Linked DNA regions of Homo sapiens. The protein of the gene in region 1 purifies or fractionates together with the protein of each later gene. This does not show direct contact. Each region holds a gene or a part of one and is shown in the gene's direction. Other genes may lie near its edges.

Region 1 (3,820 bases):
AAGGATCAAATGAGTTAGGTGTAGGAAGTAGGTGTGAATATAAAGCAATGCGACCTGAAAGTCCATGATCACATCAAATGTGAAAGCTCTTTAAAGTTCTCCATATGCTCCCGGTGGCCCTGGCCACTGCTTCTTGGACTCTGACCTTCTCAGTCACTTCTCTGCTGTCCAGTAATTCCTGACTCCATTGTCTTCTAATCCTGCCAACTCTCCCCACAACTATGAGTGATTACAGGGCAGTACTTAGCACATAGTAGGTGCTCAACAAATGTTGGTTGGATATATGAAGCTTTGGATGGGAGGGTTAGGCCCCAAGGAGCAGGCACAGAGAAACACTCATGAGAAAGCCTTGGGTGAGGGCAGTGGTGGGGAATTTATTCCCTGTTCTCCTCAGCCTTGCCTCTCACTCCACTGTACTTCTTCAAGGCAAGAGATGGCCTGATTTGTCTTATTTGTATCTGTGATGTTTCACGCAGAGCCAGTCACAAAATGGTTGGTAACTGCTTTTTGATTGGCTGAGTGAATGAGACAGGGTGATGTGGTAGAGACAGCATGGAATTAAGTGGTGGGTAGAACTTGGGAGCCTGGCCCTACCATTTGCTTTGGGTACATACTTACTGCATGCTCCTTATGTACCAGGCAGGTACTAGGTTGCAAAAATGAATTTTTATTTTGATTTATTTATTTTTGAGATGGGGCCTCACTCTGTCCCCCAGGCTGGAATGCAGTGGCATGATCATAGCTCACTGTAGTCTCCACCTCCTAGGCTCATGCAGTCCTCCCACCTCAGCCTCCTGAGTAGCTGGGACCACAGGCATGCACCACCACACCTGGCTGATTATTTTATTTTTTGTAGAGACAGAGTCTCACTTTGTTGCCCAGGCTAGTCTTAAACTCCTGGGCTCAAGTGATCCTCCTGCCTCGGCCTCCCAAAGTATTGGGACTACAGGCGTGAGCCACTGTGACCGGTCAAAAAAAAATTTTTAAACTCACGCTCTTGTAAGGGAGCAGATGAGTGAGCAAACGACCATGCTGTATATGATACAGACATATGCTACATATGTTGGTGGCCAAAAAAGAAAAGGATAGACTCTCCTAGGAGGTTCCCCAAGGCAGAAACCTTAAGCCGGGTCTCAGCTTGGGAAAATTACTTAACCTCTCTGGGTCTCTGTTTCCTAAGCTATCCTGTTAGGAGACTGAAGTCTCCGCAGCGGCAAGGAGTAAATGAAATAAAATAATATGAAGAAAACATGTGGCACTGGATAGTCTTTTTTTCTTTTTTCTTTTCTTTTTTTTTTTGAGACGGAGTCTCGCTCTGTGGCCCAGGCTGGAGTGCAGTGGTGCGATCTTGGCTCACTGCAACCTCTGCCTCCCAGGTTCAAGCAATTCTCCTGCCTCAGCCTCCTGAGTAGCTGGGATTACAAGGCATGCGCCACCATGCCGGGCTAATTTTGGTATTTTTAGTAGAGATGGGGTTTCACCATGTTGGCCAGGCTGGTCTCAAATTCCTGGCCTCAAGTGATCTGTCTGCCTTGGCCTCCGGAAGTGCTGGGGTTACAGGTGTGAGCCACCACACCTGGCCTAAATAATCTTTTTTTTTGAGACAAAGTCTCACTCTGTCACCCAGGCTGGAGTGCAGTGGCGAGATCTCGGCTCACTGCAACCTCCGCCTGCCAGGTTCAAACGATTCTCTTGCCTCAGCCTCCTGAGTAGTTGGGATTACAGACATGCACCACCACGCCTGGCTAATTTTTGTATTTTTAGTAGAGATGAGTTTTTACCATGTTGGGCATGGTGAAACTTAATAACTTAATAAAAGTTAAAAATGTCACCTTGAAACCAGGCCTGGGATTGGTTGGTGGGAGGAGCTTGGGGAGGGCAGGAGCTGAAGGAATTCCAGGAAGCTGGTCCCTACACAGCCTCACCCTGTCTCTGCTGGTTAGTACCTGTGCAGCCTTGAGTAAGTCCCTCACCTTCTCTAAGTCTCAGGCACTCTATCTGCGAAGTGAGGATAATATGATTGTTGTATGGCTCAATTGAGAAACTTCACACAAGTCACCTACAACATGCTAGGCACATAGTAAGTACTAGAAAATATTAGCTCTTCCTTATGATTTTTACCACCATATTTCACAGAGAGACCACATCTGCACGCTGACACACGCATGTTGCATATGTGTGGACTCCTGGATATGCTCAGGAAGGGCGGAGGGTGAGAGGGCCTGGGGTTAGGCTGAATGACAGCTGGCTGCTGCTCAGCCTGAGAAGCCTTCCTGGAGGTGAGGCGACCGGAACTCTGTAGAGAAGGTGGGAGGGGTCGGGTTCGGCTTGGGTGATGGAACTGGGGAGGACGGCTTGTGGTTCATGCCCAAGTTGGGGGAGCCTGCTTCATGGGAAACATGTCAAAGGGAAAGGTGGCCCCTGACAGCAGGAACTTAGTTATCTCAGGCACGTAGGCCACCTCCCCCCCGCCACACCCCACTCCCCCTGCCTGGGCCAGTCCTGCCAGCAGCATCCCAGCTGCTCGGTAGCCCGGCTGGTCCCCTGACCTTCCTAAGCAAGGCAGCCTGGCGGCCATGCTGGGTTGCCGTGGTAACTGGCGGCCTCCCAGCTGGGTTGCCCGGGTAACCGGTTAGCTGGCGTTCGGAGAGGAGGGTGGTGAGCTGGGGGAAGTCAGCCTCAAAAGAGGCAGAGAAGGACAAGGGCTGGACAAGGAGGAAGACAGATCCCAGATGCCCCCAGCACAGCCCTCTCCTCTCTCCCTCGTGGGACTGGGAAAGCCAGAAAAAGGCAGGTAGGAAAGAATGTTGTGCTGTTTCCGACCCTTTGTGTGTATGTTTTGCAGTGTGAGTCGTCTTGGCCTTCATGGGACGTTTAGGGGATTTGACAGGGCGGCTCAGGAGCTAACCCTGGCAGTGATAAAACCAGGGGCCATCCAAACCAAGACGTCAGTCCTGGTCCTCCCCCCGCCCCCATCTCCCAGACAATTTTACCTCTTTGAGCTTTGATTTCTTCATCTGTAAAATGGAGAGAACTTGGACCTCCAGAGCACACGTTTGGGAGCAGTGCCTGGCACCGTCAGCGGTGGGTTCCTTCCTCTCCTTCCATAGTGATTTTTGATTTGGTGGCTGCTTTCCAGCCTGTGAAGAGCTTGCACTAGAGGCCAACCCTGCTCTGAGCCCAGCCCTGCGGAGGGGATGGTGGTGGGATGGTTGGAATTCTTGACAAATTAGAGACATGGCTCTTACCTCAAGGAGTTTACCAGCTCACTCTGCTGAGGGCAGAACACAAGTTACACAGGTTGGAACATCTGCAAGAGCAAGAAAGGTTTTTTTATTTTTGTTTTTGTTTTTGAGACACGGTCTTACTCTGTCACCCATGCTGGAGTGTCCTGGTGACATCATAGCTCATTGCAGCCTTGACCTCCCTGGCTCAAGCCATCCTCCCACCTCAGCCTCCCAAGGAGCTGGGACTACACGTGCTTGCCACTGTGCCCAGCTAATTTTTGTATTTTTTGGTAGAGACGGTTTCACCATGTTGTCCAGGCTGGTCTTGAACTTCTGGGCTCAAGTGAGCCATCTGCCTCAGCTTCCCAAAGTGCTGGGATTACAGACATGAACCACTGCGCCTGGCCAGAATGTTTTAAAAGGAAGACATCGAAATTTTTGACTGCAACCAGTAGAAATACATTCCAGGAGCACATGCGTGTTACCCTTACTGTAAGTGGTGCATGTCATATTGCAGTCTTGTCTGGCCTATACATATTTATTTTTAAAGATAGTCTTCACCCTTCAACTTGCTTTCGCACTCACAGATGAGT
Region 2 (3,820 bases), on another chromosome or scaffold:
TATCCACTATCCCCATCATACATTATGTGTGTGTGTGTGTGTGTGTGTGTGTGTGTGTGTGTGTGTGTATGCATGTAGATGGAAGTTACTGATCAGAAAACAAGCCCCAGTAATGACCCATAAGCTCAATGAATTAAAGATTCATTGGTTGCCTGGGATGTGTCAGGCAGCCAGGTTCTAGACAAGGGGCTGGAGTTACTAAGATATTTAAACCACTGGCCCCTGCCCTCCAAGAGATGACACTCACATAGGAGAAAGTGCATATTTGCATACTGTAAACATTTTTACAATGAGATATCTATGAAGGGCAGAAGTCATACAGAGGAAGAAATAGTTAATCAATGAGTGATAAGAAAAGGTTCTCAGAATGTGTCATCTAAGCAGAATTTTAACTAAATTTGCTCAACAAAGCATGATACAGCGTTTCCAATAGGTAGACCAACATATACCAGAATATGAAGCAAAATCCATATGGCATGGAAACAGAAAGCCAATGTTTCTCTCCTTCCATTAGAAACACATTTTCGACATACTAGAACTAGCCTACCCCTTTTTCCTTTTGTTCATCCAATAACAAATATTTATTAAACCTTATTTTAAGCACTGTATTTAAGTGTAAAGTAGACGGAAAGAATAAAAGGAAACCAATATTTCCTGAGTAGTTATTGCAATGACAGGCATTGGGAGAGGCACTGTTTTAAATCATTGTTAATCACCTGATAGGTAGATGTATTATTCCATTTTTATAGCGAGAAACAGACTCAAAAGGGTTAGATGACGTAGCAGGAAGTTTTATCTAGATCTATCCTGTTCCAGATCCTATACTTCTTCCATCACAGTTATTGGTAATGCAGAGTTACCTTGGCTTGATTATTTTCCCTAGCGTGGATACTCACAAACACGCCATTTCTCTGTGACTAAATATTGCCTGACAGCTGACCAAGAATACAAATTTGGTCTGTCATCAAAGCAGAGAGTGAAGTCAAGTGGCTCACAGGTCTCCAACTTCTGACTTTGACCTTATTATGACTGATTAACTGTCCCCCAATTTAGATATTCCATGCCCCATTGGTTAAACTGCTGGTGGCAGAACCATCATGATCTGCCATCTCCGCTGATCCCTGCCTCAGCTGCAATCAAAGCAATGATCACTGTCAGGCCAGAAGAAGGGGCTTAGCCACTGCCAAGACAGATCCCAGTCCACTCCCAGCCTTCCCGCCCCTGCTGCTCATTCCCCAAAAAGTCAACCTGGGTTTTCCTGGGTGAACAGTGCCCACTGAACAGCTCCTGCTTGCCCATCTCAAGCCCTCTCAGTTGCCACTCCAATCATTTTGGCTGCTGTATTTGGTTTGAGAAAGAGTGGAGAGGACACTTCTTCATAACTCATATTTGACAGAAACCCAGAAATTGTAGGAACAAGCCATGATTGCTGTGATTCTTGCTCTGGTTGGCTAGGGATGCCCTCCCTTCCAGCCAGAGTAATACATACTTGTGGGAGTCATGGAAGACTGAGGAAGCTGGAGTAGAAGGGAACAGGGGCTTTCCTCAGTGGTAAAAGGAAAAGCAACATTTTGGAACTCTAAACAGTTGCTCAGTTGGGCGAATTTCATGCATTCATTCATTCATTTACTAAATGGTTAATGATTGTTCATGTACTGCCTGCCAAGCCCATGCCAGGGTGGTCTGTGGAAGCAGCAGTGACAGCTCCATCTTCACACAGCTCACAGATAGCGGGAGGTGCAGACAAACTCACAGGCAATGGTGGCAGTGGAATGTCAAGAGCCCAGGATACCGAGCCTGCCAGCCTGCCTGCCTGGGTTAAAATCTGAGCTCCACCATGTAAAAGCTGAGCAACCTAGAAAAATGACAACCTCTCTGTGCCTCGATTTTCTCATTATGAGATAAGGATAAAAACGACATCTATCTCATAAAATTGCTGTGAAGATTGCATGATTTAATATGCACAAAGCTCTTAGAAGGATGCCTGGCCCACAAATATGCATTCAGTGCACATTTCTTGCTACAGTTCTGCTAATCCTATAAAACATATGCACTATGATGGATGTGTCTGGGTGCCAGGAGGACACAAAGGAGCACTAACTCATCCAGACCAGAAGCTTCCCAGAGGAGGTGATTCCCAAGGTGAAATCCGAAAGATAAAGGGAGTGAGTTATCCAGGAGAAGAGAAAGGAAAAGCATATTCCAGACATCAGGATAGGACAGTGGAGGCAAAACAGCATATGCTATATATATATGGAATTCACAACACTCTGGTATGACTGATTAGTAAAAAGTAGGAAGGCAGACCAAGAGAAATAAGGAGACATGGTAAGGTGAGTGGGCAATAATGCATGATCTGAAAAATAATAATGCATGGACTTAGTGTGGTTCACATATCAGGAGCTTCTCCAATAGCCAGGCTATGAGGCACTAAAATGAGGAAATATGGTTTCCAAACTTCGCAAATACTTATAGTCCAGCCACAGGGGATATACTGATAAACTCAGCTCAAATGTCACCTCCTCAGAGATGCTTTCTCAACCACCCTTAGTTCCATGAGGACTGCATCATTGTTTAGGCCACTCCTGTATCCCCAGAGCACAGAACATTGTCTGGCTCATAGTAGGTGCTCAAAAGTTTTGTTGAATGAATGAACAAATAAACGTGTAAGGAAGTCAGGCACAGCACTTGCCCACAGGAAGCTTATAAGATGAGCGGCATGCCATTGGGAGTTTGAATGATATATGGAGATCCAAACAGGGCATCAGAGGACTGCTCAGAGGAGTCAGGGAATTAAGAAAAAATTGGGAGCCAGTGAGCCAAGATGTGTTAAAAGCAAGTGATCAAGCTTAGATTGCAGTGTTAGTTAATAGAGCATATGTGTCCCTGCCTGATGCATTACCTTCCCTGCAGTAGTTAGCCTTCTGGGACCCTGAAAAGCATGCAGAAAGGTTGACAGCTTACAATCAATACCATGTTCACTGATGCAGGAAGCAACATTATCACATCCAAGATATTGCCCCCACACCCAGGCTGCAGCACTAAATATTCCCCATAACAAGGCAAAGGGAAGTGACAAGAGCTATTATTCTCAACCCTCCCACTTGGAAACAAGAGGTGAGACAAACCTTCCCCTAGATGTTCTTAGGGAAAGGCAAGACCCCCAAAGAAATCTTTCAGAGCTGAGCACATGCCTAATACAGCAAGACAGGGATGGGAGAAGATTGGCATTTTCATTTGCCTGGGTGTCCACAATATTGCAGGGGAAGCTCTGTGGGCAGCTGGGAAATACAACAATAAATTGGAGGGGGATGAACAATAGGGTCAGTGGGGCTGTGTGCTGAGTGAATGCTGGATTTTATTCTACATGCCCAATTCACTCCAATAAGATAAACTTGACTTCCTCCAGTGTGGCTTTCTTATTTCAGCTTCTCTGACTGTGGCATAATTGAAAGTCATATTTCATCTAGACCATTGGTTTTCAACTCCAAATGCAGGTGGCTTATGAAGACTCAGCCTGAATATATAAAGAGAACAGCAAACAATCATAGTTGCATATTAAAGACAATCTATTTCTCCGTAAAGGAAAGTAAAGTGAGTCATATTACATACAAGCCACAATACAGAACTGATCTGAAATACACTGCGGAATGGCCTTTCAGTCTATGCTGGACTCTAACAGGAAAAAGGCAGAAGGTGGTCAATGGTGCATTTATTTAAACCCCTCATTTCCTCCCTGACGAGAAGAAGGACAACAGTTCTTATTTTTCATATTATTTTTGAAAAGGCAGAAAGGTTAATTATATATTGACATGATTTG

The links.
Region 2: the proteins of PLEKHA6 (region 1) and PPP2R2B purify together in Homo sapiens (co-immunoprecipitation; one large-scale study listed by IntAct). This does not show direct contact.

What each region holds. Positions count from the first base shown.
Region 1 is NC_000001.11:204,349,854-204,353,673, reverse strand, and holds part of PLEKHA6 (pleckstrin homology domain-containing family A member 6), read left to right. Parts: intron 1-2,690; exon of another isoform or gene 2,691-2,732; coding exon of another isoform or gene 2,733-2,794; intron 2,795-3,820.
Region 2 is NC_000005.10:146,581,508-146,585,327, reverse strand, and holds part of PPP2R2B (serine/threonine-protein phosphatase 2A 55 kDa regulatory subunit B beta isoform), read left to right. Parts: 3' UTR 1-3,820. UniProt on the Homo sapiens protein: The B regulatory subunit might modulate substrate selectivity and catalytic activity, and might also direct the localization of the catalytic enzyme to a particular subcellular compartment.